Linked DNA regions of Homo sapiens. The protein of the gene in region 3 purifies or fractionates together with the protein of the main gene of each other region. This does not show direct contact. Each region holds a gene or a part of one and is shown on either strand. Other genes may lie near its edges. The genes, in order: NUDT12, VPS33A, HSPB8, RGPD5, USP34, LONRF2 and MYH4.

Region 1 (2,217 bases), on a different chromosome or scaffold from region 3:
TTAGAAAAATGGTTTTGTGAGATAAAACTGTGAAGGAAGAAAAGAAACCAAGAGAGAAAAAGTTCAGAGAAGACTGACCCAAATTTAACATAATCTGAGGCAATATTGTAAAAATGTGTAAAAATATGAATTTGTGATTAAGACAGAACACTTTGAAAATATTTCGAAAACCCAACATCGTATTTTGTGTTGTGACACTCTCAAGAGTACTGAATAATCTCTAATATCACTTGAGGAATGAGTGTTATTAGAAATTATTAAATAATACTCAAAGCTTAGTTCTTAGATTTAGAGATTAGGATTTATTCTAATCCAGTGTTTGATTAATTGATGTGCAATAGCTCGGCTTGGTGGCACAAAGAATGCCTGCTGCTTCCCTTTGGTCAGAACATCCAGGACCTAAAACACACCATAATAGAATGCATTAGGATTTCAAAGCTGTCATATTTAAATACTATTCCCATGTTTACATAATTCAATTAAAATGTGATGAGTTTTACAGTGAATAACAACAGTAGAAAGTGACAACATCCATATTTACATGCAAAGTTTTTTTTTTTTTGGAAACAAGGTCTTGCACTCTGCCACCCAGACTGGAGTTGCAGTGGTGGGATCATGGCTCATTGCAGCTTTGACTTCCTGGGCTCAGGCGATCCTCCTGCCACAGCCTCCCAAGTAGCTGGTACCATAGGTGCACCTGGCTAACTTTTTAAAAATTATCTGTAGAGACAGGGTCTCCCTATGTTGCCCAGGCTAGTCTCAAACTCCTGGGCTCAATCAAGCTTCCTGCCTTGGCCTTCCAAAGTTCTGGGATTACAGGTATAAGCCACCACGCCCCGCCTCAACATGCAAAATTTAGGACAGCATTTTTAATTGCTTCACTGAGTAAGTGATTCAGTTTCTAAAATGTTCCAGAAAGACACATTCCCTTATGAAAATGACATCACGAAAAAGCAAAATGTACGCTCCACACTTAATTTCTAAGCAAAGCCAACTTTTGAAACAGATTCTTTTTTATAAAATTCATAAGCAATAATCTAATTTCCATCTTTTAGGATTAAGCATAGAATAAAATTAATTTTATGCAGGCAAAGTCAGAAAGAATTTCAGGTCAGATGAGTAATTTATCTTTTAATATATTATTTAGGAATGACATTTTAGAAAGTTATTTTAAGTGTATGTTTATTATACAGTTATGTCATTCTTGTCCTTAAGTACATTTTAAAATGAATAAAAACTTTCTGAAAATTTTAAGCACTTACTGATGTTTTTTGAGAGCTACTTGTTTTAATGTTATAAACTAAAATATAAAATGTATAAGAATATTCCTGTTTCTCATCTATGAATTAATGTTTTTCTAAACCCACTGATAGGTATTATTATTTATGTGAAGGAATGGAATCTGAAACTCGAAATGGTACAGAATCATCTCTACTAGAAAAATCTCATAGAATAAGTTAATATAGATCACATTAGTGAAACATACTCCTCCTGTATGGAATTACTAATTACCATGTAATCCATGCATAATGAGAGGGCCAAAGGCATCATTCAACTTGCTGAAAATATGCATCCTTGCTCTGTGACCAAACCAATACAGTCAGGGAACAATCAATAGAAGAAGGAAATTAAATTGAACTTTACCTGTTCTCTAGTGAACCAGCGGGCATCCTCTATTTCATTCTTGTCAACTTTAATTTCTGTAGACACTGCTAGAGCTAAGCAACCAATCATTAAGGAGGAAGGCATTGGCCATGGTTGACAAGCAACATACTGAACATGGCCAACTTTGACTCCACTTTCCTCTTCTACTTCTCTCCTAACAGCATCTTCTATTGTCTCTCCTAATGAAATGGAGCAAAAGAACAAGTTGCTGATGAACATGCCCGGGACACTTTGTGTCCTGAATGGTTCAAACATCTGGAAATCACTTTGGACAGAAACCCAATGCAAATAATCAGAAAGCAGAAGCCTAAAACTAGACTGTAATTGAAGAAAACAATTTTTTTAAAGTACATGACCACATATAGAATATCAAAATGCCAACAATAAACTTTTCGTTTTTTTAAGGTACAAATTTGTCAGTTACATTTTAAAAATAATGATACCATCTAAAAATATCCAATACCTAATACTGGTTAAACACTATGCAAACACTTTATATCTTATCTCATGTATATATTGTCCACGAAATAGTTATAAATTACATGATTTTTA
Region 2 (3,500 bases), 3.1 Mb from region 3:
ATACACACACACACACACACACACACACCCCCCAGTGATCAGGCCAAGTCACTGGAGCCCAAGGCCGCTGAGAATACAATTGGTCACTCCATATGCCTGTCTGGACACGTCTGTCTCTAAGGACACGCTTCTGAGAGGCTACCAGATGTCTACTCCATTTCAATAGTATCAACAACTAATCTAGCAAAAAGTATCAGTAATTGTTTTATGTTAGGAATTTTCATAAAGTGAATAATTTAAAATTTGTTAATAGAGCTATTTAAAGGAGTTATATAAGAAACTCTTTCAAAAGAGCAAATACCTTATCTAATACAGTCTTAAAAAGATTTGATTTTAGGGGCCAGGTCTCATGTTGCCATGTATGGCAGAAAGTGTCTTGCACAGAATAATGTTAAATATCTGTTACTTGATAAAATCTACACTTGCACATTTTGCATTTGCTCTTAAAAATATTTAAGTGGCCGGGCGCAGTGACTCACGCCTGTAATCCCAACAGTTTGGGAGGCCAAGGTGGGCGGATCACAAGGTCGGAGATCGAGACCATCCTGGCTAACATGGTGAAACCCCGTCTCTATTAAAAATACAAAAAATTAGCCAGGTGTGGTGGTGAGCGCCTGTAGTCCCAGCTACTCGGGAGGCTGAGGCAGAATGGCGTCAACCCGGGAGGCGGAGCTTGCAGTGAGCAGAGATGGCGCCACTGCACTCCAGCCTGGGCAACAGAGCAAGCTGGGTGACACACAGTGAGACTCCGTCTCAAAAAAAAAAAAAAAAAAAAAAAAAAAAAAGGCAAGGCATGGGAATCAAAGCAATTGGTTTTCTGGCTATAATCTGAGGTTTAATAAGCTTTCAATTACTTGTTAAAGAGGTTTTTTTGTCCACATACCTTATCAGTGTCTATTCCAGACATAAACTCCTGTTCCACGGTTAATTTATCAAAAAAGTCTTCAGAAGCTAAAATGAAATTAGCAAATTTGCAACTTAGAAATTAAATGTTAATTTACTTGAGTGGCATGCTTTTATACACAGAGCACGATTCAGAAACTAGACATGTGGCTGGGCACGGTGGCTCACACCTGTAATCTCAGCACTGTAGGGGGCCGAGGTGGGTGGATCACTTCAGGCCAGGAGTTCAAGACCAGCCTGACCAACATGGCCAAACCCCATCTCTACCAAAAACACAAAAATTAGCTGGGTATGGTGGCACACACCCGTAGTCCCAGCTACTCGGGAGGCTAAGGCACAAGAATCACTTGAGGCGGGGAGGCGGAGGTTACAGTGAGCCAAGATCACACCATTGCTCTCCAGCCTGGGCAACAGAGCGAGACTCTGTCTCAAAAGAAAAGAAACCAGACATCATGCAAAAAAGCAAGCAAGCAATAAGTTCAAGTCATCACCTGAAGAAAATCTTTTAGGAAACATGGAAAACGCTAGGCCTCTGCACTCCTAAGTTACACTAGATACAGTCGACAAGTGCACTCTTTTGTATCCTTAGGATTTCAGTACAGACCCCAGAATGAGCGTCAGTATGAATGAAAGCTAATTTCTCAAGAACATTTCATTTTCATCATTAGGTTCAACCCAATTTCAACTGGTTTCCACTCCTATGAACAGGGAAACAAAGGACTGATTTTCCGATAACTGTGATTTACTTAAGATTCGAAGTATACTTCATAAAACAATCTCCTACTCAGCTTTTACAGCCCTGTGTTGTAACAAACAAACAAACTCATGTCTGCTTTAATAGATGTCTTCTGAGCTCTTTCAAAATACTCAACATATACTCTTTGTACCAATTCTGCACAGAATATTCAAGGGAAGAACATGCGCCAATAAGTAATCCTTCAAAAAAGGAAAAAAGCTGCTGGCCGCGGTGGCTCATGCCTGTAATCCCAGCACTTTGGGAGCCAAGGCAGGCGGATCACCTGAGGTTGGGAGTTTGAGACCAGCCTGACCAACATGGTGAAACACCATCTCTAGTAAAAATAGAAAATAAGCCAGGCGTGGTGGCAAGTACCTGTAATCCCAGCTACTTGGGAGGCTGAGGCAGGAGAATCACTTGAACCCGGGAGGCAGAGGTTGCGGTGAGCCAAGATTGTGCCATTGCACTGCAGCCTGGGCAACAAGAGTGAAACTCCGTCTCAAAAAAAAAAAAAAAAGAAAAAAAGCTAGACTAAAAAAATTAACCATCTCAGATTATGATGGCAAACTTATGGATAATTTTTTTCTCTTATCTACATTCCAAATATTTTTCATATAAATGATAATGAAAAAATTTGAGTTAAAAAATGGACCCTTCCTCTCTTTCTCTTTTTCTTTCTTTCGTTATTTCGAGATGGAGTCCTGCTCTGTCGCCCAGGCCGGAGTGCAGTGGTGCAATCTTGGCTCACTGCAACCTCTGCCTCCCGGTTCAAGCAATTCTCCTGCCTCAGTCTCCTGAGTAGCTGGGATTACAGGTGCCCGCCACCACACCTGGCTAATTTTTGTATTTTTAGTACAGATGGTGTTCCACTATGTTGGCCAGGCTGGTCTCGAATGCCTGACCTCAGGCGATCCACCTGCCTCGGCCTCCCAAAGTGGTGGGATTACAGACATGAGCCACCTCGCCCAGTCTTTTTTTTTTTTAATGGAGTCTCGCTCAACCAGGCTGGAGTGCAGTGGCGTGATTTCAGCTCACTGTAACCTTTGCCTCCAGGGTTCATGTGATTCTCATGCCTCAACCTCCTGAGTAGCTGTAACTACAGGCATGTGCCACCATGCCCAGCTAATTTTTGTATTTTTAGTAGAGACAGGGTTTCGCCATGTTGCCCAGGCTGGTCTTCAATTCCTGGACTCAAGTGATCTGCCTGCCTCAGCCTCCCGAAGTGCTGGGGTTACAGATGTGAGCCATCATGCCTGGCCAACAAATGGAACATTCTTTTTGTTTTGTTTTTCGAGATGGAGTCTCACTCTGTCACCCAGGCTGGAGTGCAGTGGCGTGATGTCGGCTCACTGCAACCTCCGCCTTCCAGGTTCAAGCAATTCTCCTGCCTCAGCCTCCCAGGTAGCTGGGACTACAGATGCATACCACTGTGCCTGGCTAATTTTTGTATTTGTAGTAGACATGGGGTTTCATCATGTTGGCCAGGCTGGTCTCAAACTCCTGACCTCAAGTGATCTGCCCGTCTTGGCCTCCCGAAGTGCTGGGATTACAGGCATGAGCCACCATGCCCCGCCTGGAATATCCTTAACTATTAACATATGTATACTTCATTAACACTGAGAAGAACACGTGGTATTAAGACAGAGCTGACTCTCCCGAAGAGGCATTGTGGTGTTGATGACCTAGGTGTCAAACGTTGTATGTGCAAGTAGCCCCAGACTGAAACAATCATTACAAAGGATACTCACTAGTGACATCTTTGATCAATTCTGCAATTGAGGTATGGTTTGCAAGCGAGCCCCTTGCTGCCTGCATGTGGGGCAACTGGGAAACAAACTGCTTGATCTCCCCCACGGTCTTA
Region 3 (3,158 bases):
AGAGATCACACTAGCTGAATTCTGAGGCTTCTTCCAGCTTGGGATTCTACATTCCTGTCTCTTCCCCCACATGTCCGTCCCTGGCCCTCCCACAGCCTCTGCAGTTCTTGGAAGCCTGTGGACACTTCCTGATAAGGCAAACGCCAAACCATTTGTTCTTCGTGTTTGCTGGCTTGCCTGGCATCTCCGTGCCCCACACCTCTCCCTGGTTTAGCAAGCAGATTAAACATTGCTGAGGGAGAGGAAGGAAGGCAGGGGGTGGGGGGAAGCTGATGTCAAGGCTCAAATGAGGTCTCAGGGTGGAGTCACAAGCAGGGCATAGCTGTAAAAGGGACTGTGTAAGAAAGAAGTGAATTAATCATCTTAAAAGGGGTGTGTGTGTGTGTGTGTGTGTGTGTGTGTGTGTGTGTGTATTTCACATGCTCCAAGGCCTTAGGGGAGATAGCTTGCTGGAAGTAACCTGATGAGAAATGCCTGAAATTGCTCCAGGCTGGTGCTCAGCTGCTGAGCTGGGCTAGTTGTTAAAATATTCAGTGGTCCCCAACCTTTTTGGCACCAGGGACCAGTTTCGTAGAAGGCAATTTTTCCATGGACTGGGGAATGAAACTGTTCCACCTCAGATCATCGGGCATTAGATTCTCATAAGAAGCATGCAACCTAGATCCCTCGCATGCACAGTTCACAACAGGGTTCAAGCTCCTATGAGAATCTAATGCCACTGCTGATCTGACAGGAGGCGGAGCTCAGGCAGTAATGCTGGCTGAACTGCTGCTCACCTCCTGATGTGAAGCCTGGTTCCTAACAGGCCACAGATGGGTGCCGGTCCATGATCCGGGGGATGGGGACCCCTGAATATTGGCTAGCTATTGCCCTGAGCCCTCCCTAGCCAACCCCAGTCACTCTGATCTTGTCCCCAGGACCCTCTAAACCTCTCCACCTTCCAACAACTAAAGGGTCCCAGGACCCTCCTCCATCACTATGACATGCACCCATCCCTTCTGAATGGTCAGTGCCCAGCTGCACTAGTTGTTAAATATTTTGAATCTCAGCTCCGGGTGCAGGGAGTCCTGGCTCCATGAGAAAGTGAGTGGGTAACTTGGGGCAACTTGCTTAACTGCTCTGACCTTCCATTCCCACATCCCTGCATGGAGGGGTTGTGATGGGAGTGAGAGGATGTGTATAACGCATTAAGCATGGAATACAGACTCAGGGCTTGGTCCATGGGAATTAATATTATGAAAAGGCTTCACAAGGCTGGACTCACACTCCAGCAGCTGGGACTCCTGGGAGCTCCTGGCTCTGCCCAGACTCTAGACACCTAGGAGTCGAACTGGGGTCTGGGACACCTCTGGACCAATCTCAGGAGTCCTCGTTGCCTCCTCTCCCAGGGAAAACTCCAGTCATTAGAGGACAGGGAGATTCCTTCAGCCAGGCTGAGATCCTTGGAGATTTCCACCCAGGCAGGATGCTGCAGCTGTTTGCCTTAACCATGGCAAGGAAATTCATCTCAACACATCCATCTCTGTGTGAAAAGCCCCATTTGGACTGAATAAGGAGGAGAGGGAGAGGTCTTGGGTCTCAGCTTTCAAAGTCCATGATCTTCCTATTTGGTTAGGGGAAACCAAATTACAGTCATTTGCAATACCGTCATTCACATCCCATCTTCACTATTTTTTGCCTTATATGCTTACATTGCTGTACCATGATTTACTAAAGGTTTTTTTTTCTTTTAGATCATCTCATTTTTGATAAAGTTAAATTCTTATCACTGAAATGTTCACTGAGGAAAGCGATCATGAAATAAATCCAATGAAAGCAAACTGTGGTTAAATTCTAACTAGATAATATTGCCTGCCTAAGGGCCTCAGCTCTCTCATTGTTAAAAAGGGAAGGTAGCAAGTGATAGAGGCTAAAGGCGTTAAAGGCATGTTAGTACTTAGCAGAGACATTCCTTCAGATGTAAGTAGAAGCACTGAAAGAGAACTGAAGAGGAATTACTTTCCCACCAAATGGGTTTAAATACAAGTCACTTGGTTAGAGACCTTGGACTTGTCTATCTCTCTGAGTTTCAGTTTCCCCATAAGTAATATAAGAGCATTGTCATGGACAATCAGGAAGATCCTTTGGGGCCCTGATACTCTGTGGTTCAATGATCCTGCAATTTGTATGATACTCCATCTTGCTGTCAAGATGCCAACATGTAAGGTCAAAGACTGCAACGTAATTCTCACTCCACCCTAAGAGGTGGGTACTATTATTGCCCCCTTTTTTTCTGCAAAGAAACAGGTTCAAAGAGTCAAGATCACCAGCCCCATGTTGTGTGGTCAGGAAGAGTCAGAATTTGAATGCACGTCAGCCTGCCTGCAAAACCCATGCTCTAGGCCATAGCCACCCTGTCACACTGTACCTGGTGTGCACTGGGTTGGTGTGCACATGGTTAAACAGTCAGCCCATCCCCAGCATTGGGAGGGAGGTCTAAACTTTTGACTTTGTCTCCGCTTCAAAAGCTTGACTTGGCAGCTTTCTAGTTCCCTCTTTTTCTTCCAAATGGGCTTCCCAGAAGCAGCCTTGTTCATCTCCATGGTTCCAATCTGGCAAGGAATCTCCTGGGTAGATACGGCTCATGTGGCTACAGGTTGTTGTACCCACAAAAAAAGAAAGAAAGAAAGAAAAAAAAAAAACTCCCCAGCCCCTCCAGAAGGAGTCCTGCCTATGATCAGGAATGGGCTTACCTCATGCCTTGGTTCTTTCATCAAGACCCTCGTATTTACAATAGGCAGAGCCAGCAGGGATCAGTGGAAAGATTTTGATTGAACTGCCGGTCCTTCCTGCCATAGTCCTTCTTTCAAATGTCTGGTGCTGGGGGAGGCAGGAGAGCATCATGGTCAGATACTCTGAGTTTGGAGACCAGGATTCCAATTCCATTTCCTATCTGCCATTTGCCAGCTGAGCAACCTTGGGCAAAGCAGTTCACTTCTCTGAGTCTCAATTTCCTCATCTGTAAGATGGGGATAGCAATGGAATCTGCCTGGTGGGATTATTGTTAACACCAAAATGATATGATTCAGCTAAAGTACCTGGCACATAGAAAGTACTCAGAAGGTCATGGATTTCATGGTTAAAAAAAATAATGGCACCCCAATGAGATCACTAATATG
Region 4 (3,500 bases), on a different chromosome or scaffold from region 3:
TAAGTAAGTACTTAGGATCTATTAAGGCACTGAGGATTCCCGGGTCCATGTACTGTTCTCTCTACAGATCAGATCAGTATTTTACAGTCAAGGAGTCAAAAAGGCAGAAATAAATATTGAATTCTTCAAGTAATAAACGAGGTCCACAGCCTGGATCCTTGGTTACATAAACTCCAAAGTCCAAAATGCTGATGCACACCAGGCTGGGTGCGGTGGCTCACATCTGTAATCCCAGCACTTTCGGAGACTGAGGCGGGTGGATCACTTGAAGCCAAGAGTTCGAGACCAGCCTGGCCAACATACAGAAACCTCCTTTCTACTAAAAATACAAAAATTAGCTGGGCATGGTGGCACACGCCTGTAATCCCCGCTGCTTGGGAGGCTGAGGCAAAGAATCGCTTGAACCCGGGAGGCAGAGGCTGCAGTGGGCCAAGATCGCACCACTGCACTCCAACCTGGGCAACAGAATGATTCCATCTCAAAAAAAAAAAAAAATGCTGATACAACCAGAGTATGTTCCATCCATGTGATAGAGTATACAGCTACTCAAACATCTTATTTTTGAAATTCCAAGACCCCAGTGAATGTCCAAAAACGATGAATAGTACCAAACCAGGTTGCCATCAATCGAAACATGCTTCCTGTTTGTGTCCTCCACCCACAAATTTAATGTCTTGTCCATCTCAACTAAGCACTTATCACACACTGTGGCTGTAACTTTTGCAGTTTGGGGTGTCACAACAAAACTAGCACAAATTTCTTTTTCCTTCTTCACAATTTCATGGACAAAAGATTTGTTCTTACCATAGATCTCAGCAACCCCAGTATATGATCTTTTTTCTTTCCTAAGTCAAAAACTCACCTCTTCACTTAAAGGAAGCACTATATGGCTTCTCTCTGGCATATGTGAACTGCCAGCATCACTATTCTTGCTCTTTGGTGCCATTTTAAATAAAATAAAGGTTACTTGAACACAAGCACTGCAATACTCCAACAACTGATCTGATAACTGAGATGGCTAGTATGTAACTAGCGGGTGGGGAGCACATACAGCATGAATATGTTGGACAAAGGGATGATTCGTGTCCTGGGTAGGACGGAGCAGGAGGCCGTGAGATTTTTATCATGTTATTCAGACCTGTTTGCAATTTAAAACTCATGAAATGTTTATTTATATAATCTTCCATTCAATATTTTTGGACCACGGGTGACGCAGGTAAGTAAAACCACGTAAGGCAATACTGTGGATAAGAAGGGACTACTGTACCAGCAACGAACAATCAGAAAATGAAATTAAGAAAGCAATTCCATTTACAATCGCATCTAAAAGAAAAAAATGCCTGGGAATAAATGTAAACAAGGAGGTGAGAGACTTGTATGCTTAAATTACAAAACCTTGCTCAATGCCAGGCTAACACCTGCAATCCCAGCACTGGCGACAGAGCAAGACTCCGTCTCAAAAAAAAAAAAGAACTATAGCAATCTTAACAAAAATAATACACAACAGTCAGGACAGCACATAAAGGAACAAGGCCTGTTCCCCCCTTCCTTTTTTTTTTTTTTTTTTGAGATGGAGTCTTGCTCTGTCGCCAGGCTGGAGTGCGGTGGCTCGATCTCAGCTCACTGCAACCTCTGCGTCCCGGGTACAAGCTGGGACTACAGGCGCATGCCACCATGCCCAGCTAATTTTTGTATTTTCAGTAGAGATGGGGTTTCACCATGTTGGCCAAGATGGTGTCGATCTCTCGACCTTGTGATCTGACTTCTTCCGCCTCCCAAAGTGCTGGGATTACAGGCATCAGCCACCGAGCCCGCCAGTTCCCCCTTTTCAAAATGAAGAAATAGATTCAAGGTACAATGCCAAAACATAATAGAAAAATAATTCCATTACCTTCTTTGCTTCCAACTATGTTAAAACATAATAGAAAAATAATTCCATTACCTTCTTTGCTTCCAACTATGTTATTAAAGTAGACAATCTTAAGATAATTAAACAACTTTACAAATTATTCTTCTATATGATCTTTTGCCTCTAACCTGCTCACTTTACAAGGGAACTGAAGCTCAAGCAGGCAAATGCCTTGTTTAAAGATATACAGCTAGAAAGGAGCACAGCCCATGTTATGTAAACAGGACAATATCTGATGCAAGCAGTACTTCTTTACATGACAGCAGATGTCACTATAAGCAAATACCTGAATTCACTTAAGCTGTCAAATATCAAGAACTGATGCAGGGCTGAAAACAGGAACAGTAAGACCCTAAGAGATGCCACATCATCGCTATCTTGCACAGTAAGATAGAGATGTAATTGTAATTGTCCAAAACTTAATATTTGTGGCCTACTTTTTCATTATGCAGTTCTAAATTTCTCTCTCTTTTTTTTTTAATTCAAACGGAGTCTCACCCTGTCGCCCATCTTGCACAATCAAATGAATCTCCCTCCCCCTAAAATCCTCCAAAAAAGCTGCTGTTCTCAACAAACCCATCTGATCAGCTCCAAATCTGTGGAGTCCCAACAAGGGTGAAGGCCGTGATTATACAGGACAATGAGGAAAAGTCTAGATACTGAACCATGAGTTCCCCAATCTTCTTCCCCTGGAACATAAGGGTAAGGAAATCTCTCAAAAGGCAGAACAAACAAAAGAGGAGAATAAGAGAAAAATTAGAGAAACTCCAGCTTTCAGGTAAACATCATTAAAAAAAAGGGTAAGAAATGGTTAAAGAAATAATACAAGAAATGCTACAGAACTGAAAGAAATGAGTTTCCCAATTGAAAGGACACTTCCAGAAAACCTTTAAGTTACCAAGAACAAGAATCTCATGGGACTCCTAACAACAGAACTTCTAGAAAATGAAGCAATGCTTTCAAAATTGCGAAAAAAATTATTTGAAACTCAGAATTCGATAACCAAATGATCAACTAAATTAAGTAAAGATGTTTTAAAGACATACCATTAGTTTCTAGACCAGCCTGACCAGTATGGTGAAATCCCATCTCTACTAAAAATAGAAAAAATTAGCCGGGCATGCTGGCGCACACCTGTAATCCCGCTACTCGGGAGGCTGAGGCAGGAGAATCACTTGAACCTGGGAGGCGGAGGTTGCGGTGAGCTGAGACCATGCCACTGCACTCCAGCCTGGGCAACAGAGCAAGACTCTGTCCCATAACAAAAACAAACAAAAAAACCTCTCATCCACTTTTCCTCAAAGCAAGTGAGACTATGCTACACCAAAACAAAGAAAGTAAATGAAGAGGACATGAGATACAAGAAACAAAGGGTCTAACTCAGAAAAAAGATGAAGGGAATTCTCAAACTGGTGATAAAGGGAAGTCCCAAGAGCACAGCTGTGTAGCAAAGAGGAAGAAAAACCAATCCGGGTTGGAGAAGTTGGTTAGTAAGGGTATTCCAGGTAGACAGACAATCAATCAATCAATCAGTGTTTTAAGCTGAAATTGATGGGATTATCTGACCAGTTTGACCACATTTGAGGGTTTA
Region 5 (3,500 bases), on a different chromosome or scaffold from region 3:
AGTGGTTTAAAACAATGACGTACACCAGGCGTGGTGGCTCACGCCTGTAGTCCCAGGAGGCGGAGGTTGCAGTGAGCCCAAGATCGCACCACTGCACTCCAGCCTGGGCGAAAGAGCGAGACTCCGTCTCAAAAAAAAAAAAAAAAAAAAAAAGAGGTACTATGTAATTTTCACTCTGCTTTCAGAGAAATTTACCTTACGAGGTAAATAACCTCAGTTTACTAGTGAGTTTGCTATGGTGATGGCCTAAAGCATGTAATTTTAAGCCTCCAACTCCTCACCAAGATCTAGAAATGCTTTGGCCTTTGTAAACTGGTTCACAAAAGTAACTACAAAAGCAGTTATCAGACAAACTCAACAGAACAAGCAGAGGAACAGAAATTTAAAATTTATCCTAAACAGAATGTAATCCCACAAAATGATAACAGCAAAATTTACTCAATACATCCAAGCTTTTTAAATGTTTTTAAAATGAAGCATGAAAAGAAAATGGCAAGTCCAGTATTTTAGTATTGTTGGGATTGGTTATTCTAACACTAAAGCCAAATATGATTTTGAAATGTAGTTTCAACTTTTATGATATGTGTCAAGATTATATTTAAAAAGGGTGGGTGTGGTGGGGCAAGGGTACTTATGATAGGATCCTTAGTCTGGTTCCAGGAACAAACTTCAACGGGTCCTCAACCTGTAAGCACAATTCTGTGTCTGTATGCCTCTGCATGTTTCCACAGTGAAAGTTTACAGCTTCAGATTCTCAGGACTAGAGGTATAACTAATAATATTAATACTCTCACCAAAAACTGATGACAAAACGAACTGTTCATAATCTGTTACTTTTAACGATACTGCATTCTGCCAAACTTTAAACATTCCACATTAAGTCCTTACTCTTATCAAAAAGTCTGTGCATATCTAATACAAAGCTATACTACCCACACTTGTGTCTACCCTTTCATTTAAAACACAATTAACTGGCCAGGCATGGTAGCTCATGCCTGTAATTCCAGTACTTGGGGAGGCTGAGGCAGGAGAATGGCTTCAGACCAGGAGTTTGAGACCAGCCTGGGCAACAATGCAAGGCCCTGTCTCTATTAATAAACAAAAACACGGCTAGGCACGGTGGCTCACGCCTGTAATGCCAGCACTTTGGGAGGCCGAGGCAGGTGGATCACGAGGTCAAGAGATCGAGACCATCCTGGCCAACATGGTGAAACCCCATCTCTACTAAATATACAAAAAATTAGCCGGGCGTGGTAGCGGGCGCCTGTAGTTCCAGCTCCTCGGGAAGCTGAGTCAGGAGAATGGCGTGAACCCGGGAGGCGGAGCTTGCAGTGAGCAGAGATGGCGCCACTGCACTCCAGCCTGGGTGACAGAACAAGACTCTGTCTCAAAAAAAAATAAAATAAAATAAACAAAAACACAACAAAATTTGCTGGGAATGGTAGAGGGAGGGGAGGGATAGGGAGAGATTTGTTAAAGAATATAAAATTACAGTGAGATAGAAGGAATAAGTACTACTACAGAATGACTACGGTTAACAATAATATATGATACAAGCCGGGCATGGTGGCTCATGCCTATAATCCCAGCACTTTGGGAGGCCAAGGCGGGCAGATCACTTGAGTTCAAGAGTTCAAGACCAGCCTGGCCAACGTGGTGAAACCCCATCTCTACTAAAAATACAAAAATTAGCCGGGCTTGGTGGCACATGCCTGTAGTCCCAGCTACTTGGGAGGATGTGGCAGGAGGATTGCTTAAGCCCAGGAAGCGGAGGCTGTAGTGACCCAAGAGCATACCACTGCACTCCAGCCTGGGCAATGGGAAAGAAACCCTATCTCAAAAAAACAATAATATATGATACAGTTTCAAATAGCTAGGAGGATACTGAATGTTCCCAAAGCAAATGCTAAATGTTTGAGATGGATATACTAATTAACTTCAACTGATCACTATACGTTTTATGTATTGAAACATCACTATGTACACCATGAATATGTAAAATTATTATTTATCAACTAAAAATTTTTTAAACAAAATTTTTAGGCCAGGCATGCTGGCTCACTCCTGTAATTGCAGCACTTTGGGAGGTACAGGCAGGCAGATCCCCTGAGGTCAGGAGTTTGAGACAAGCCTGGCCAACATGGCAAAATCCCACCTCTACTAAAAATACAAAAATTAGCCAGGCAAGGAGGCGGGTGCCTGTAGTCTCAGTTACTCAGGAGGCTGAGGCAGAAGAATCACTTGAATCCGGGAGGTGGAGGTTGCAGCTAGCCGACACTGCATTCCAGCCTGGGTGAGAGTTAGACTCCGTGTCAAAAAAAAAAAAAAAAATTTATTACACTCGTTTGCCCAGGTAGCCTTCTCTAAGTGTGATCACTGTTTGTTAATTTCACAAGAAACAGTGTTTTTGGTTTGTTTTTTCAAGACAGCAGTCTTGGCCAGGCGCGGTGGCTCACGCCTGTAATCCTAGCATTTTGGGAGACGGAAGCGGGTAGATCACACGGTAAGGAGTTCAGACCAGCCTGGCCAATATGGTGAAACCCCGTTTCTACTAAAAATACAAAAATTAGCTGGGCATGGTGACGTGTGCCTGTAATCCCAGCCACTTGGGAGGCTGAGGCAGGAGAATTGCTGAACCCAGGGAGGCAGAGGTTGTAGTGAGCCGAAACCGTGCCACTGCACTCCAGCCTGGGTGACACAGCGAGATTCTGTCTCCAAATAAAAAATAAAAAAATAATAATAATAAAAAAAGCAGTCTTACTATGTTGCCCACGCTGGTCTCGAACTCCTGGCCTCAAACAATCCTCCTGCCTCAGCCTCCTGCCGAGGCGGGATTACAGGGGCGCACCACCACGTCTGACTGTTTTGTGAGGTTGCTTTAATACTAATTACGTATTTTTCAGCATGACCTGGAAACACACCACCCAAAAATATGCACAATTTTATTGCTTCTCTCAGCTGGCTAAACTGTTACAGGGTGTCGTATTTAAAGATGAATTCTGAGCACATTTTGGGAGGACTGTAACTTTGTTTTTTTTTTTTTTTTTTTTGAGATGGAGTCTTGTTCTGTGGCCGAGGCTGGAGTGCAGTGGCATGATCTCGGCTCACTGCAACCTCCGCCTACCAGGGTTCAAGCAATTCTCCTGCCTCAGCCTCCCAAGTAGCTGGGACTACAGATGCCTACACCACCACACCCGGCTAATTGGTGAATTTTTAGTAGAGATGGGGTTTCACCATATTGGCCAGGCTGGTCTCGAGCTCCTGACCTTGTGATCCGCCCACCTCGGCCTCCCAAAGTGTTGGGAATACAGGCGTGAGCTGTATTCAGAGTTGCCCGGCCAACTCTGAATTTCTAAATCAACGTTGAACTGATGCTCATCTTTGTACAAGGTACAGGCGGGAAAAGGGCAGACTTTATAGGTAATTACTGCAAATGAGATCACAAGAAACACATATAATCTACTTCAACAAGTTTTATCAAGCTCCAACCACTCATGTTC
Region 6 (4,051 bases), on a different chromosome or scaffold from region 3:
TTCTGTTCTCTTGCTAGATATTTGTCTAAAATAAGAACAAATAGGATCTGAGATCATAAGGTTTCACAATCTTTACTGTATGGTCTGTGCTCTGAAGCTTTTTCCCCATTGCTTCCTGATTGTTGGTTGTGAATTTGATGGATAAATGACCCTCAAATATAAGTGAATTGTTATTCTATAAAGAAAGCAGATAAAAATCCAAACAGTGATTGAAAAAGTGAATTTGAAATAATTCAGTAATGAAAAAGAGACCCAAACAGTACACTGTTATCAATTAAGTTAGGTAGACAGCTGGGGGAAATCCTTCATGGAAAAGGAGGTGGGTACTCTGCATTTGTTTATTGTAGAACTAGAGGGCTGGCCAAAAATTGCCCCTTTTTCCCTTTTAGGAACTGGTCTAAAATGTTCTCTCACTTAATGAGGCATTTCTCCTTTCCCAAAGCCAGATGTGGTCGAGGTATTGTATATTTTCTTTAGCCAGCAGTTTTAGATGTAGAAAAACCTCTCCAATTTTTTAAAAAAATTTATTCTTGAAATATGAACAGTAGTATGAATTCTAGAATATTGTAATGCATTTTATTGTATTCAAATACACAGGATAAAACAGATACTGTGACGACAGGAAGAAGGGAGCAGGCTACATAGGAGAAATACATAGGCTATATAGGAGAAATTATGAACCCGGTTAATACGCACAGAGGATTTTAATTTAAACCTTGCTTGTACACCAACGGAGCGTTTAGCTCCCTCTCCCCAGCAACTTATGTCTGCAGTACTCCATACTAGGGCACCCTTTCTATTTCTATTCTAATTCTATTAATTAGAATTCTATTTCTAATTCTATTTCTGCTTCCTAATCAAGGGCACAATACAATTGTCCACTTCTCGAATCCCTCCTCCTCCTGGTATCTGGTTCTCTTGGCCCTCCACGTTCTCTGTTAAAATGAGTTCTCAAAGGCCTCAGCCTAGAGTTAAGAGAAGAAGCTCGCTGAGGCGGGGCCTCTGGGTGCCCACTTCAGCCTCCCCAGTCATTTAGGACAATTTCCTAAGTCGAAGCTAGAGATGCGTGATGCGTTTGGTGACTTTTCCTGGGTTCTTGCTTAAGCGGAGCCACAGGTTGTGGGGGCGGCCAGGCCTCTGGGGAAGAGCAGGTGCCGCGGTGCCGGCGCGCCAGCAGCCCGCGGCCAAGGCCACCTGCTCCCAGGGCCCCGGCACCTCTGCGGGGAGGCGGCAGGCAGAGGACGCGCGCGCAGTCGCGCAGGAGCCCTCAGGCGAGTGGGGGAAGCATCGCAAGAGACGCGGACCTGGAGCGCGGTCACTGCGTTACCGCAGCGACCTGGGTTACCTAAGCCGGCGGGACTGAGAGGCCGCTGCGCGTGGGCAGGGGCTCAGATTGCGCCCGCGGTGCCTGTCCCGGCCCCCACCCCGGAACGATTGCAGCCCTGCGGGGCTCGCCGCCCACACCGCGCTGAGGACGCTGCCCAAGCCAGGCGCCCGCCCCCGCCCGCGGTCTCAGCCGCTCGCAGCGCGCCGCCCCCAGACGCGCGTGGCTGCTGGCGAGGGCTGAGACCGCGCTCCCGCCGGCCAGTTCCCAGCAGCAGCGCATCCTCCCTGCTCCGCGCCTTCGCTCCGGACCCGCGTCGTCGCAGCCCCGCGGTGATGAGCCCCGAGCCGGTCCCGCCGCCGCCGCCGCCCCAGTGTCCTGGCTGCGACCGCGCGGAGCCGATCGCCCAGCGCTTAGAGGAGGGCGACGAGGCCTTCCGCGCGGGCGACTACGAGATGGCAGCCGAGCTCTTTCGCTCCATGCTAGCCGGGCTGGCGCAGCCGGACCGCGGCCTGTGCCTGAGGCTGGGGGACGCGCTGGCCCGCGCCGGCCGCCTCCCCGAAGCCCTGGGCGCGTTCCGCGGCGCCGCGCGGCTCGGGGCGCTGCGGCCGGAGGAGCTGGAAGAGCTGGCGGGCGGCCTGGTGCGCGCCGTGGGCCTGCGCGACCGGCCGCTGTCCGCGGAGAACCCGGGCGGCGAGCCCGAGGCGCCCGGCGAGGGAGGGCCGGCCCCGGAGCCCCGCGCGCCCCGCGACCTGCTCGGCTGCCCGCGCTGCCGGCGGCTGCTGCATAAGCCGGTGACGCTGCCCTGCGGGCTCACAGTCTGCAAGCGCTGCGTGGAGCCAGGGCCCGCGCGGCCGCAGGTGCGGCGCGTGAACGTGGTGCTGAGCGGCCTGCTGGAGAAGTGCTTCCCGGCCGAGTGCCGGCTGCGCAGGCTGGCAGGCCAGGCGCGGAGCCTGCAGCGCCAGCAGCAGCCGGAGGCCGCGCTGCTCAGGTGCGACCAGGCCCTGGAGCTGGGTGAGTCGGCTGCGGGGCGGGTCCGCCTCCCCTACACCTGTCCGGCCCAGCAGCGGGGTGGGGAGCTGGCCGGTGGGCCCGAGGCTTTGGGCTTTCGAGAGCTTTGTCTAGGCTTAGGGGTCACTTTGCTTCCTAAGGATGGGAAGGTGAAAGGTGGGGGCGGCCACACCCTGCAGCCAGGAGAGGCCAAGTGCACCCCACTGGTTTTGTCTTTTCCAGGATGCTGGTAAGTTTCCCGCGGCCCCCGGAGCAGCTCTGTAAGGTCCTGTAATTGCTTTTCGGCATCTTCTGCGCTGTTGAGGAGCGGGGAGGATGACGAAATATTTTTGCTCATCCTGAAGGAAAATGCACATAGCTGACACACTACAGGCGCAGAAAGGGGTGCCTTGTGCTGGGGCAAGATTTGCTTTGGGTTTCAGCTAATATAGCCAGGAAGGAACCGCCTCCACTCTGCTGTAATCACGTCAAACGCTCCGGCTCTAGCCTGCTCTCTGTCTCAGAGGCCATCATTAGATGTCATGGCGTATTTAACTTACTAGATAGTTACACTGACTAGTGTGTGTAGTTTTAAATTGTTCATTCAGTCATTTCCTTATTTATCTGAGGCCTAAGGCCAGCAACAGGCACTCTCCTGCCTTCACCCAGCCACCACCTGTTAACACTATTTAGCTGAAAGGAAGACCAAACTTCTGTCATCGTTTTGGCTTTGACATATGAGTATGCGCTCTATTGGCAGTTGTTTTGGGCAGTGTGAGGAGGACGGTTTGCTTTCTGGTTTCACCGGTTTTATAATAGGGCATATACGATTTAAAGCACTAGCCGAGAAGACTTGTTGAATCTCTTGTTACTAAAATAATCTACTACCATGCTGTAGTCAGTGCACATTTTATTTTAAACTTAGGATTAAGGTTTTCCCTTTTAGAAGGCACAAATTATAAAGTGACTAGCATTCAATTTTGTCTTGCAAAAAAAAAGATCCAAATATTGAACAAGTGTTCAATATCTGTATCTAAATTGGGATATTCTCTGCTGGAATAGAGCACTTAACTCAGCTTTTCTAACGAGTATTCTGTAGTTTTTGCAACCAACATATCCATACTTTAACAGGCATATTTTTTAGTTTTCTACTAATTTAGGTATTGATGGTGTTAGAGCAGCACTATCCAATTAGAACTATTGTGTAAGCCACACATAATTTGGGATTTTCTTGTAGCTACATTAAAAGGGTGAAAAAAGCAGGTGAAATTTATTTTAGCAATTTTTAACCCTATACATCCAAAATATTATTTCAACATGCCTTCAATTTTAAAAAATAATTGAGATTTTACTTTTTTAAACTAAGCCTTTGAAATTCGTTATATATTTTGCATTTACTGCACTACCCAATTCCAACATCAAATTTTCATCAGAAATACTTCATCTGTATTTAGATGTTGGAGAAGATGTAGAAAAATGAAAACTGTGATATTTATATGCTGCTAATGGGACTGCAAATTATGCCCCTGAAAAATATTTGGTAGTATCTACAGATGTTAAGCCTGTCCTTGGCCAAATAGTTTCAAAGAGGTATATGCATATGTGCCCCCAAAAGAATGTGCAATTAGATACAAGAGTGTATGTCATTGTTAGAGATACCCCAAAAGTGCACACAACCCAAATGTCCAGTAAGAGCAGAAGGGGTGAATATATGATTATGTTTTCATAGCATACTAT
Region 7 (3,500 bases), on a different chromosome or scaffold from region 3:
TTCTAAACAAAGTAGAATTGATTCTTTGAATACTTATTTTCCAAGTAACTGCATGAGATCATGCATACTAGGCAAAATACTGTTAAATGAGGACTCTGAAATATTTCCTTAGAGTAATTTTAAAAAGGTGTTCTCATGCTCATCTGCTTGGATCCAGGATAGATTTTGACTATTTTAACCTCTCAGGGATCAACTTTTGAGACTTCTAGACTCAAAAGAATAGAATTTTCTCTTTTCCTATTTATACCTATTTACTTTTCATATCTTTTCAAAGACTCCTTTCAGTAGGAATTACATTTGTATATTTTGTAAGGTACATTTTGTAAATGTGATTTTGTATGCTCTAACAAGAGGATTTGCACTGGCTAATTTTCTGTCAGTTCACTACTCACATCAAAGATCTCAAAGCCAGCAATGTCCAAGACCCCGATGAAGTACTGCCTGGGCTGCTTGGTGTCCAGCTGCTGGTTGATGCGGGTGACCATCCACAGGAACATCTTCTCGTAGATGGCTTTGGCCAGAGCACCCACTGCATTGTACACCTTCAACAGAAGTGATAGTTTAGTTTTTTAAATTGAAAACAGTGATGAACTCCTGAGTCACTTGCGGTTCAAATAAATCAGACAATTTAAGTCATGTTTACCTGCTGCACAGTCTGGCCTTTGGTTACGAACTCATTGCCGACCTTGACTCTGGGATAGCAGAGAGATTTGAGCAGGTCAGCAGAGTTCAGACTTGTCAGATAAGCAGCTTTGTCAGCAACTGTGTGAACAAGGTGAGAATGGTGAAACTGACCATGGCTTACACAATTTAAAATGTAAATGATGATGACAAAGAAAAAAGGTTTCACTCAAAAAGTAAGATGTGCAAATGTCATTGAAACCTTTTCATTTGTTCATATTGCCTCAAAAGCATTGCCACCACTTGCACTAATTTTAGTCATTTCTTGTGATGATAAATTGGAGGTTGGGGAATCGATGCTGTCTGTGATATTTAACCTGGCAAAAGTAGACCACAGATAAAAATAATTTGAGAAACCCTAACCTAGAGGAGTAGTGACAGAAATATTCAGATCTCTGTTTCTTTCAGTGCCTGTGGGCACACAGATTATCCTGAAATAAAATATGTTTTAGTCAAATAGCAAATATGAGCTTATGAAAAGCCAATGAATAATGGAATGAGCAGAAATCACAAATCTGCTAAATAATGTAAAACGTCAGGCAGTGTGTAATTTCCTTCTCGTAATACTTTTGCCCTTCACGAGCTAGGTCAGAGAAAGTAAAAACACGGTCCCTGCCTCTGAAAAGTTCACTATGTCAGCTTTGTCAAGTGGAAGATACCAACAGGGGGTGGTACCTTCCGTGCCATCTGGCTCTGCCTGCTCTTCCCTTTGCTTTTGCTTGAATTTCATGTTCCCATAATGCATCACGGCTCCAGTGAGCTTGTAAATGGCCACCTTTTCATCAGCAGTGAAACCCAGGATGTCCACAGCACTCTGTCAAAAGAGTTGAATTTGCTCATCCCCAATTAGCACCATGGAAGAATCCCTCAGAACACCGGGGCTGTCTCCCACTTTTTTCTCATCACGCCTTGCCTTATATTTGACTAGCACTTTGCCATCTTCAAAAGGTACTCATATGCTTTACCTTTTGATCCACATGGCAACACGAAGAGGTATGCATCAGTCTTTCCATTTGAGTCATGAGTCCATTTGGTCACAGCATATGATGTGACTTGTCCACACTCACTGAACCAGGACTAAGAGCCATGACTTTTGATGCCAAGGCCAGTGCTTTGCCCCTTTTCTCCACCCCAGCCCCCCTTTGCTTCTCAGGCACATGCTCCTCTTGGTCTTTTGGCTATTTTTGTTTCTTTTCTCCAGTCTCACGAGTCTCTCTGTTGCTCCTTCTTCTCCTATTTGTCCTATCCTAATGCATAATCCCAGTCTACCTTCCCCTGCTAATGGGCATGAGTGATAAAGTTGGAAAGAGGGTATGAGGAGAACAGCAATGGTTGTGAGTCTTTCTCCACATGCCTCTCTGATAGCAAGCCACAGCTCAGCGACCACGAGATGCCTGGGGTAGCAAACTTTACCTAGTTATTTATTTCTCATGCAGAGAAGAGACATTTATGAAAAGAAGGAATTTTGCCATTTAGTATAATATTTCTGTGTCTTTTTTCTCTATCGAATTTTGATTACCTTTTTAGTTGCCCACATAGGCTTTGAAAAGGCTTATAAATGGGGGCAGGATTCAGAGCAGGCAGAGGAAAATATGTTTATTTACCATTCTTACCTAAGACTCTTTCCCCAGATTATTGACTTCCACTTCCAGCTCACTAACTCTACCTATTTACAGAAACTAGACATTATTACGGAAGTCTTAGAGCAAGACTGCTACATTTTTTTAACCTCGCAGACCAGGGTGTGTTTCTTAACTCCCTATCACTTTTGGACATACAAAGATAATAATAAGTTATAGAGAGTTAAAGCTGATATTTATAATATAAAGCCACACAAATGAATTATTGACTTCTTGAAAATAATATTTTAATAGAAAAAGCAGTTTTGCAAGCACTGTCAACTCTAACTTGGGGGTATTGGGATAGTCCCACTGATATTAAAGTTAAAAATAAGGAAGATTATTCAGAAATCAAAAGAAAGCATGAAATATACATAAAGTTTACATATAAAGAAAGTAAGCCAAAAAGCAATAATCCTTAAAAAAGAGGTGATGGTGGGGAGAGAGTGCGTTGTTTCAAAAATAAATATAAAGGCTTATGGAGTCCCCAAAATGAGTGTTTTTGAAGTAGACAACCCACTTCTTCTAATGCTGCTTAGGGAGTAGAGAGGGATATATCATTGGCCCACAGAGGTTTATTCAAAATAAGGCTTATGTTTACATGTGACTGTAGAAGAACAGTGGGAGTTCCATGTTTAGTTGTAATAATATTGCAGCTCCTTCCCAGAATCTTGGGTGTGAGGTGTGGCATAAAATAGCAGAGAAACATTAATATTGGAGCATAAATATCAACCAAAAATGACTAATAAGAAAGATAGAATGAAAGGAGCCTACTAGCTAAGGAATACTAAAGACCCAACATTTATTACAGGCAGTGAAAGCTTTTTAACACATGTAGGGGGAGGGTATTGAAATATCCTACAATTTTTTTCCAAAAGTAAGAAAGCCCAAAGGGTTGTATTACCTATTTATAGTCTTTCTGCCACTGCTTTCCACCCTAATAGAGGAGAGTGTTGTACACTGGAAAATGAATTTACTTTTTACTACTTTGTACCTATTACTTACATCTGTGGCCATCAGCTCTTCCTGGTCATCAATGCTGGGCACAGTAATTTCCCCTTGGCTGACAAATGCGAAGTCATATGGGTTGGTGGTGATCAGAAGCATTTCTGAACACATGGAAAAGAACAGTATATAGACAGCATTGCTTTGGTCATCAAAAACATTTCAGAGAGGCTTCTTAGAAGGGCTGTTATTCTT

What was found.
Region 1: the proteins of HSPB8 (region 3) and NUDT12 purify together in Homo sapiens (affinity purification with mass spectrometry; 3 studies listed by BioGRID and IntAct, with this or other methods). This does not show direct contact.
Region 2: the proteins of HSPB8 (region 3) and VPS33A purify together in Homo sapiens (affinity purification with mass spectrometry; one large-scale study listed by BioGRID and IntAct). This does not show direct contact.
Region 4: the proteins of HSPB8 (region 3) and RGPD5 purify together in Homo sapiens (affinity purification with mass spectrometry, with the first as the bait; one large-scale study listed by BioGRID). This does not show direct contact.
Region 5: the proteins of HSPB8 (region 3) and USP34 purify together in Homo sapiens (affinity purification with mass spectrometry; one large-scale study listed by BioGRID and IntAct). This does not show direct contact.
Region 6: the proteins of HSPB8 (region 3) and LONRF2 purify together in Homo sapiens (affinity purification with mass spectrometry; 2 studies listed by BioGRID and IntAct, with this or other methods). This does not show direct contact.
Region 7: the proteins of HSPB8 (region 3) and MYH4 purify together in Homo sapiens (affinity purification with mass spectrometry; one large-scale study listed by BioGRID and IntAct). This does not show direct contact.

What each region holds. Positions count from the first base shown.
Region 1 is NC_000005.10:103,550,573-103,552,789, forward strand, and holds part of NUDT12 (NAD-capped RNA hydrolase NUDT12), read right to left. Parts: intron 1,845-2,217; coding exon 1,645-1,844; intron 400-1,644; coding exon 289-399; 3' UTR 1-288. UniProt on the Homo sapiens protein: mRNA decapping enzyme that specifically removes the nicotinamide adenine dinucleotide (NAD) cap from a subset of mRNAs by hydrolyzing the diphosphate linkage to produce nicotinamide mononucleotide (NMN) and 5' monophosphate mRNA.
Region 2 is NC_000012.12:122,238,995-122,242,494, forward strand, and holds part of VPS33A (vacuolar protein sorting-associated protein 33A), read right to left. Parts: coding exon 3,388-3,500; intron 952-3,387; coding exon 884-951; intron 1-883.
Region 3 is NC_000012.12:119,188,931-119,192,088, forward strand, and holds part of HSPB8 (heat shock protein beta-8), read left to right. Parts: intron 1-3,158. UniProt on the Homo sapiens protein: Involved in the chaperone-assisted selective autophagy (CASA), a crucial process for protein quality control, particularly in mechanical strained cells and tissues such as muscle. Displays temperature-dependent chaperone activity.
Region 4 is NC_000002.12:109,797,305-109,800,804, reverse strand, and holds part of RGPD5 (RANBP2-like and GRIP domain-containing protein 5/6), read right to left. Parts: intron 1-3,500.
Region 5 is NC_000002.12:61,464,588-61,468,087, forward strand, and holds part of USP34 (ubiquitin carboxyl-terminal hydrolase 34), read right to left. Parts: intron 1-3,500. UniProt on the Homo sapiens protein: Ubiquitin hydrolase that can remove conjugated ubiquitin from AXIN1 and AXIN2, thereby acting as a regulator of Wnt signaling pathway.
Region 6 is NC_000002.12:100,319,702-100,323,752, reverse strand, and holds the start of LONRF2 (LON peptidase N-terminal domain and RING finger protein 2), read left to right. Parts: upstream 1-1,251; 5' UTR 1,252-1,659; coding exon 1,660-2,338; intron 2,339-2,371; exon of another isoform or gene 2,372-2,564; intron 2,565-4,051.
Region 7 is NC_000017.11:10,459,560-10,463,059, forward strand, and holds part of MYH4 (myosin-4), read right to left. Parts: intron 3,410-3,500; coding exon 3,306-3,409; intron 1,496-3,305; coding exon 1,357-1,495; intron 763-1,356; coding exon 644-762; intron 543-643; coding exon 393-542; intron 1-392. UniProt on the Homo sapiens protein: Muscle contraction.